Homo sapiens: one gene and its partner. The protein of the gene in region 1 interacts with the protein of each later gene in a pairwise test. Each region holds a gene or a part of one and is shown on either strand. Other genes may lie near its edges.

What was found. The genes of interacting proteins can lie anywhere in the genome.
Region 2: the proteins of CLDN11 (region 1) and SHISA3 interact in binary tests that used the Homo sapiens proteins (3 or more experiments, as listed by UniProt).

Annotation. Positions count from the first base shown.
Region 1 is NC_000003.12:170,414,908-170,421,888, forward strand, and holds the start of CLDN11 (claudin-11), read left to right. Parts: upstream 1-3,960; 5' UTR 3,961-4,159; coding exon 4,160-4,385; intron 4,386-6,318; exon of another isoform or gene 6,319-6,430; intron 6,431-6,981. UniProt on the Homo sapiens protein: Plays a major role in tight junction-specific obliteration of the intercellular space, through calcium-independent cell-adhesion activity.
Region 2 is NC_000004.12:42,400,459-42,402,999, forward strand, and holds the end of SHISA3 (protein shisa-3 homolog precursor), read left to right. Parts: intron 1-553; coding exon 554-993; 3' UTR 994-2,029; downstream 2,030-2,541. UniProt on the Homo sapiens protein: Plays an essential role in the maturation of presomitic mesoderm cells by individual attenuation of both FGF and WNT signaling.

The DNA of each region.
Region 1 (6,981 bases):
AAGTCAGGTCTTAATCACAAAGAGGGTTTGGGAGGAGAGCCACAGCCAAGCAATGTGGATGATATTTTTTTTTTTTTTGAGACAGAGTTTGCTCTTGTTGCCCAGGCTGGAGTGCAATGGCATGATCTCGGCTCACTGCAACCTCCGCCTCCCGGGTTCAAGCGATTCTCCTGCCTCAGCCTCCTGAGTAGCTGGGATTACAGGCATGTGCCACCATGCCTGGCTAATTTTGTATATATATATATATATATATATTTGATATGGAGTCTTGCTCTTGTCACCCAGGCTGGAGTGCAATGGCACGATCTCGGCTCACTGCAACCTCCGCCTCCCAGGTTCAAGAGATTCTCCTGCCTCAGCCTCTTGAGTAGCTGGGATTACAGGCACCTGCCACCACGCCCAGCTAATTTTTGTATAATTTTGAAACCCCGAGACGGGGTTTCACCATGTTGGCCAGACTGGTCTCGAACTCCTGACCTCGTTATCCACCCGCCTTGGTCTCCCAAAGTGATGGGATTACAGGGGTGAGCCACTGTGCCTGGCCGCAATGTGGATGATTTTAGCAAAAGTCTCAGCTAAGATAGCTTGAGGGACTTCCCCACCCTACAGAGCCTTGCTAATGGCACCGCATCCTCAGAGTCTGTGAGCCACAGACTCTGAAAATAGTCAAGGATTCCCATTGCGTCTCTCTGCCTCTTGGCCCCCAGTTCTCTTTGCTTCCATGGCTTCCTGCCTTCCTTTTGAAGGGACAAGCCCTCTCTTTACCTTGGGCTAATGAATTCAAACAGGTTACATCTTGTGGCCTCCTCAAGTGGCCTTTTGTACATCTATGCTGGAATGGATTAGACACTGGCTTTACAATTGCTTTCATTGGATAATAATAATACCCTAATTATTTAGCTTGTATCTCTACCAAAGGGAACTCCCACTTCCAATTAATCTACGCTTCCTATAAATCATTCTAACAGTGTCTAATGTGAATGAGTGTCCAGCAGTGCTGGGCACTATGCTGAGTACTTCATATAAATTATCTCACTTGATCCTCACCATGCCCTAAGGGGGCATTTACTATCTCACTTTGTACATGAAGAACCTGAGAGTCACGTAGGTGAAGGGCCAGCTCAAGTGGTGAAGACAGAATGTGAACCTAGGAGGTCCCAGTCCAAGACAGCAATCTTAACAACTTGGCAATTTTTTTTTTTTTTTTTTTTTTTTTTTACCATTTAGTGCCTGAGTTCTGAAATCTGGCTTTACAAACACTATGTGTGTGTGACCTGTGGATGATCTGGGCATTATTATATTCTGATTGGTTGAAGTTTCATGGTTCGAATGTCAAATTCTAATGGAGGCATAAGAGTGCAGATTCCATGAGTGCTTTTACAAGAAGTTGATGTTGCTTGGGTTTTATGTTTTATGTTGTATTTAGCACAAAAGCCATTTTAAAAAAGTGTTATAAGGAAATATCTGAAAACATTCAGTCCATAGACCCTGGTGATGAAACGTCCCCCAAACACAATGGCTCACTCAGAACATACTCCTATGGAATAGTTTCCACAAATCAAACTCATACGAATATAGGGAGGATACATAAGAATGCAAAATCAGGCCAAGCCTGCTGGCTCATGCCTATTATAATCCCAGCACTTTGGGAGGCCAAGGCAGGTGAATTGCTTGAGCGCAGGAGTTCAAGACCAGCTTGGGCAACATAGTGAGACCTTCTCTCTACTAATAATAAGAAAGATTAGCTGGGCATAGTGACTCATGCCTGTAGTCCTAGCTACTCAGGAGGCTGAGGTGGGAGGATCACTTGAGTCCCGGGGTTCAAGGCTACAATGAGCTGTGATCACGCCACTGAACTGTAGACAGGGTGACACAGATCTTGTCTCAAAACAACAACAACGGCAACAACAACAACAACGTTCTGAAGCATCACATTAGCCAGGGGTTTCTGAATACTTACTTTGTACCAATGTTACTTTAAGTTCTGCATATATATTACTAGGTTGGTATAAAAGTAATCGTGGTTTTTGCCGTTATGTTTAATACTTTGCACCAACCTAATAGCTCACAGAATAAAAAAAAAAGTCTATGAGGTAGGTACAGTTTTCATCCTTATTTTACAAATGAGAAAAGGAGGCCAAGAATGATAAAGTAACTTGGTCTCACAGCCAGAAAGTGATGGAGCCAAGATTTGAACTTGGGCAGTTGGACTGTGTTCTTAGTCACTGTGCTTCCTGGGTGATTACTGTGACCCTTGTACTTGACACTCTGCTATCAATTACAAGAGCCATTTCTGTGTGTGCACTTGATTTCCTTGGGGTCTCCAGGGAAATGTAATTGTCTCCTCAAGTCCAGGCTTTCCTAGAAGACATGGTGATTGCACTGATAACCAGCATTAGGGCTGGCTTTGGGAAAGCTCAGTACCTATGATTTATGGTTAGTATCTTAGATTTTAGAACGCTGAGCAGGAAGTTTTTGTGCTTTCTGAAATCCTCACACCTTTAAGTCTCATGATTGGTGAGGAGGCAGTGGTCCAAGGGAATGGATAGAAGGAGATAATAAGATAAGCCAAATGTTTCAAAGGGAGTGAAAACTGTTGAATGTAAATGCAGCTCAAGGAAGACTTCCCTATCTGAATAAAAAGGTGCAAATAATGCGGCCTATTTGTATGCATGGTGGCTTAATGATGTTGATGGTGATGATGATAGCTTTACACTATCAGAGCGCTCATTCTGGGCTAGGCAGTTTTCTCAGTGGGGTACAGATATTAATTTATTTACAGTGAGCCAGAGAAGTCTGCTGTAGCTTTTAATGCGTCTAAAATGGGACACATGAACCCCTTAGGAATTTTCAGACTGATCAGGACAGTTTCCTAGAAACAGTTCGTGAAAGGGATGAGATGGGCCCATGGTATCTACCCCTTCCTAGCTGCGTGAACTTGGGCAACTCAACCTTCTTGTGCTGTTTCTCTATGGCTAGTGCGTGTAATTTGTTGTTGTTGTTGTTGTTTGCTTTTGAGACGTTGTCTCACTCAGTTGCCCAGGCTGGAGTGCAGTGGCACGATCTTGGCGCACTGCAACCTCCTTCAAGTTATTCTCCTGCCTCAGCCTCCCAAGCAGCTGGGGTTACAGGCATGCGCCACCATGCCCGGCTCATTTTTGTATTTTCTGTAGAGATGGAGTTTCACCATGTTGGTCAGGCTGGTCTCGAACTCCTGACCTTAGGTGATCCGCCCACCTTGGCCTCCCAAAGTTCTGGGATTACAGGTGTGAGCCACCACTCCCGGCCTAGTATGTGTCATTGACAATTGTTCCTACCTCAAAGGCTGTTATGAGGATTAAATGAGCTAATGCATGTAAAATGCATCTGCATAATATATAACACAGCTCGATAAATGTGAGTTGCTATTGTTGATTATTATGGCCACGTTTGCCGCTGATGATGTTCAACCACTGAAAAGCATCGTTTTCTTTCTTCTAGTAACTGTGTGTACTGAATGCCTCGCGTTTGTCCCTACTGCACTTTTCAGTCTGTCACAATCCTGGGTCGTCGGGGGACTGTACCGAGCGCCCTTGGAGTGCTCGCAGCAGGGAAGAAGGAGCGAGCAGGGAGGAGCTGAGGAGGGTCGGAGCGGAATGGACACCCAGAGACTGAGATGAGAGAGGGGCTATAAGAAGAGAAACCAGTCGCAGGAAAACAGAACTCTCGACAAACGCACGCCCTCTTTGCGCTCTCCGTTTCTCTGGACCTGGATGGAATTGTTTTACTTTGCATCGCCGGACTGCGCTGCGGACGGGGTGGGGCGGCCCAATGGCCCCCCTGGGGTTACTCTGCTCCCCTTCACGCTTCCCTCCCGGCCCCGCCCCGCGATTGGCCGGCGCGCCCCGGGGCTGCCGCCGATTGGTGCTCGCCGGCCGGAGCCGCGGGGCTTAAAGAGGGGGCGGGGGCGCGCTGCCCAGCAGCGCTGCTGTCCCCGCCGTGCGCCCTTCGCCGCTGAGCTCGCAGCCTCCGGCGCCCACCTCCACCTCCAGTGTCCCGCCTCGGGCCGTCGCCCTCCAGCGGCTCGCGAGCGTGGGAGACGTACCTGGGCAGGCACTGTCCAGCCCAGGCCCAGGCACAGCCGTGAGGGGCGAGGCACGGGGACATCCTGGCGGCCACCATGGTGGCCACGTGCCTGCAGGTGGTGGGCTTCGTCACGAGCTTCGTGGGCTGGATCGGGGTCATCGTGACCACCTCCACCAATGACTGGGTGGTGACCTGCGGCTACACCATCCCCACCTGCCGCAAGCTGGATGAGCTGGGCTCCAAGGGGCTGTGGGCCGACTGCGTCATGGCCACGGGGCTGTACCACTGCAAGCCCCTGGTGGACATCCTCATCCTGCCGGGTAAGGACCCGAGCTTGGCGGCGGCTCCCAAATCCTTATCCTCTGGGTAGAGAGCGGGATATTAGACGGCGTCACAGAGACATTTTGGGGGCTTGAAGACCTTTGGGTACGTTTTTGACATCCCTAGTCCCACCTTGTTGTAAAAGAATTAGGCAGCCCCGAACTTAACTTCTCTAGGCCGCAGTATTCTTATCTGGAATTTGAGATAATAGTGGCAATGTGGCCGGTGGTAACACTGGCCGGGTCCCTTTGAGAATGAACAAACCGGAACACCTAATAGGAACTGAGTCCGTGTTAATTACTGCGGTCCCAGCCCGCATCCTTCCACCGTCCGCTTCCCGAAGTGCTTCCCGCTCCCGCCCGGCCTCCCCCGGGGCGCCGAGCCTTCGCGTTAGGTTCCGCCCGCAGAGGTGAGAAGGAGCGTGTAACACAAGCTGACAGGAGAATCGAACCGGCTCAGGCTGAGTTTCTCGGTCCTCATGGGATGGGCGAAGCGCCCCCGGCCAGGTTAGAGCCCTCCTAGCTCCGTCCGCGCAGCCGCTGAGCAATTCACGTCCAGGGCTCTCTGGGCTGCCTGGTTTGGGAAATGTCACGTTGATTCCCGCACGTGCCCAGGGCCATCTCCGCTGCCCCCGCTACCCCCGCCCCTGCTGTGGGCGCGTCAGACTGCGGGGCTGCGGTGACGCCGGCTCCCGCTCCGCGCCGCTGGGTTGGATAGGGACGAGCGGGCGCTCCTCGGAGGGCGGACTCCACTGGGGAGATACGGAGCGCGCCGCCGAGGGTCGCTCGCCGCCACCCCTCCAGCGTGTCTCAGATTGGGAAGGGGAGGTAAAAATTGACAGCCTAGCGCCGGCCAGGGGCCACATTTTCACATGTGTCCTGTGGAAACATTTTGGGCGACAGCCTCAATTCAGATTTAAACCAATGGGTTGGGCAATGGCGAGGTCGCGGGCACCCCCTTGGTTTTCTGCTGGAATCTCTGCTCTACCCCCAAGGCATGTCCCTACAAGGTGGGCTTCTGTCCCCCAGCCTTCGTGGATTGTGCTCACTTAAAGGATTTTCCCGGTTTCCTCAAGATGGGGAGAAACCTGTCCCTGAAGCCGCCAGTCAGATAAGACTGTGCTCGCCCCTTAAGCCTCCTCCAAGCACGCCCTATTTCCGGTCCTCGCAGTCGGAATCTGAATCCCTCCTTTCTCCTTGCTGCCTAGTACTTGGCTCTTATCCTCACAAAGGCACATTTTATCTTGTTTTTTGTTGATTGTTCGTGAGTGAAGTTCTCCCACTACGTTTTAAATTCCTTGAAGATAGAGATGGCGTCCTGTTATTCTCTTTGCTTCCTCTTCTGGACCTGGCATGGCCTCTGGCACACAATAGCTGCGGGCAGTGCTTGCCTGGTTTGCCTTACGCTATCCTTTCCTTCATTTTGAACTTTCAGAAGGCCAGAGGTCAACGAACGCAGATCTAGACTCAGCTTTGGCTAATGCTGGTGTTGGCAGACCCGGGCCAGCCTCCGGCATCCAGGACTCACAATCTGGGTGAGGGGGGACAAATTGCTAGCCTCAGTGAACCACGGTTGTCTTCTTTTAAAAGTTAAAATCAGATCAACCACCCATCTTTCACGATTATTTGAGGATTAAATGAGATAAGAAATGTAATCTCCTTTGAGATAGTAGATGCTTCATGAATGGTACCTATAGTATTTTATTAAAAGCTGGGCATGGTATTTGTAGGGATCTTTGAAGCATAAAATTAACTTTGTTTTCTTCTCCTGAAATTAACTTTACTGAGCATTCAGTGCCAAGTGGTTTGTTTTCAGAGAACAAAGGCTGTCCTCCAGAGGGGAGTGCATACTCTGGGGGTGGGGGGGGGGTGGGGGGCGGCGCTAGTCCTTCCTGCCTTCCCCCTCCCTCATACTTTGGGTGGAGGCAGGAACAGTCCTCTGTCCCTATCTTTTGGTGTCCGGACATGGCCTTGGCACTGTAGCATGTGGACAGCCAGTGCCATGGATTTCAGAACCTGCATTGCCAGTTGACTGCCTGCTTTGTGTGAGTACTGGCTCTCTACAAGCCGCAGAGGCGGACGGCTGGGTCAGGGGATGGGCCTCAGACTTCCTGGAGCTCCTTTCTGGAGATCTTCAAGTCAGTAGACACTTGACTGATTATCTTTAATTCTGAAGGAGCTGAGATGGGCAGTGCTGGAAGAGGGCCCTTGTGAAGTCCGAATTCTGGCAAAACGTTCCTTGCTAAGAGACAGCGTTGAAGTTAGGCCTTTTTGCACGTGAGGGTCGTGGTGTGTGAGGCAGATGTCGGCTAGATTCCTGGCTTTGCTATGAACTCTGCCTCACCCAGGCCACTAGTACTAGTTCCTTCTGAGCAAAAAAGGGAGGGTAATAAATGTGACCCCCCCCACCTTTTTTAAGAGGAGGGAGAGTTTTAATGAGAAACATTACATTTGAAAGTGAAACAAATTTGTCTGTGAAATTCTCCCAGTATCTTGTCAGATTTATTCTAAATAAATGTGACACATATTGTAATCTGTTTCTTAATACAGTTTTTACTTGGCATTTTACTTGACAGGATAAAGTTCATGTAGTTTT
Region 2 (2,541 bases), on another chromosome or scaffold:
GGGCCCTCTGTGAATTTCTTTATACTGTTCTTTCTGGAGTCTCATAAAATCCTGGGTCTGTGTGTAGAGGGGAATCTCATTTAATAGGCCTGGCTCCCTTTGCTTAGACTGGAGATTATTGAATGGGAGATGGATTGCCAGCCTAAGAGAGGGGACAAGTCTCTTACTGCTCACCGTGATCAAACTACTAAAACCTGCATTTAAACCTAGAATTATTTTAACCCCTAAAACTCACCCTTTCCCTCTAGTGCCTGAACAGGAGAACAGATTCCGTTTTTTTTTTCTGACTTCCAGATGTGCAATATGATAGTTAATTGCTAACAGAGGCTACGGTATCCGTTTGCTTCCTCCCTGCTAGGAGTAGCGAGAATATTCCATCATCACGGTTTGCATTGCATTTTGGAGGTTACCATTAACAAGCTCTGAAAAACTGAGCTGACAGCAGTGATAGTAACTGAGTCTCCCACCTCTCAACCCTCAGCTGCCCAAGCAGAGTTCAGAATCTGGGAGATCCTCATCTGAGCATCTGTTTATGTCTGTTTTTGCCTTTTAGAGCCTGTCTACGTCCCCTTTCTCATCGTCGGCTCCATCTTCATTGCGTTCATCATCCTGGGCTCTGTAGTGGCTATTTATTGTTGCACCTGTTTGAGACCCAAGGAGCCCTCGCAGCAGCCAATCCGCTTCTCACTCCGCAGCTATCAGACAGAGACCCTGCCCATGATCCTGACCTCCACCAGCCCCAGGGCACCCTCCCGGCAGTCCAGCACAGCCACGAGCTCCAGCTCCACAGGCGGCTCCATCCGCAGGTTCTCCTTTGCCAGGGCTGAGCCGGGCTGCCTGGTGCCCTCACCGCCCCCGCCATACACCACCAGCCACTCAATCCACCTGGCTCAGCCATCTGGTTTCCTGGTGTCACCCCAGTATTTCGCTTACCCCCTCCAGCAGGAGCCCCCACTGCCTGGGAAGAGCTGTCCAGACTTCAGTTCCAGTTGACACGCCCAGGCCATGAATCCACAACTCAGTCAGATGGCAGACAGGTGGAGCCCTGCTCCCATTGCCACATGCAATTCTGAGAAAATTTCCCTTGTAACTGATCAGTGTCATGGAGGAGCATGCTAGGAAAACACAGCACCTTCTAATTTGAAAGTTCCTGTCTCCAATCACAGAAAGGCTAAACCAGAGAACTGTTTTCTGGTTTTGCAAACATGTGATCATTACATTTCAATCTATGCTACTTTTATTCAAAATATGCAGCAGTTTGACTTTAAAGTTGCAAACTGGCTAAAAACGTTTTACTGGACATTCAGCTATATTGCTTAGAAAAGGGCTACATGTTTCTTTTTCATATAAGTTGTTCATTGAGTTATGATAGGAATATATTCATAAATAAGCAAAGAAAAATACCTAATTGTAATTATCAAAGGTTCACTTAAAAAATTAACTATTAGGTAAACTTAAGGGGGCAGTGAAAAATCTATTTATGATTTCGGGAGTAACCTAACCATGAATAATATTAGCATAATGAGAACATTTACTTTTTAAATAAATAACTAAATTTTGTTTACAATATGAGTTTTTCCAGAATACAAGGTTTCAATAATCACATGAGGAGTTTAAAGTTTTAAATATATACTCAGACATTCATTGTAACACAGAGTGTATGTAAAATCATTTCCCCCACTCACTGGAGGGAGTATTTATTGCAGACTTTTTGTTCAGCAACATTTAGTGTTTCAGTGAAAGTTGGACAGTTGGGGCTTAAAACATTTATTTGTAAAATGAGCTATGTTCAAATGTAAATATTTGTAATTTAATGTATTTACCACATTGACTGTACTAATTATTTAGTAGTCATACTGTAATTTTTATGTTAATAATAACTGGAGTTCAAAGTCTAGCTATTGGTATAATCATCTAATATTATATATATCTCCAGTGCCCCTGAATTTTATGTTTGATGACTATATATTTGGGCATATATCTTGTTGGATTAGAATAAATAAAACACTTTATATTTTCATGAACTCTATTTAAATTTTAATGTGATTCATTTTATCTCTTTAGCGATCCTTCTTTAAAAAAAAGGAAATGTTTTTAACACATACTTCATATTTTAAAATTAAAAAAAAATTCCATATCAGGGCTCGTGAAAGCAGCAAAGGAAGTGAATTTTTATGGAGGTCTCAGTCTACAGCCCTCCGATGTGTTTGGCCTGTAGAGAATTCATCATTAGGACGTTTCTCATAAGAATCTGGATTTCTGGCTTCTCATGACATAGAGGACGTGGCACCAGGGGTCCTGCACTGCCTTGGGGTCAGGTCAATCCTCTTCAGACAGGACACCTGCCATTTGCCAGCCTCCTGCCTGGTCTCCCCACCTGGCCCATCTATTTTTGCTATGCTACCTACCTGGCCCCTGCAGGTGTGGTTTGAAAGCCCAGATTTATAGGAATTCATACTATCATATGTCACTCTCAGTTTTCAAACACAATTAGTTAGAGGCAGAATTCTGTCCTAAGAGAGTTGTTTGGCCTTGTCTCTT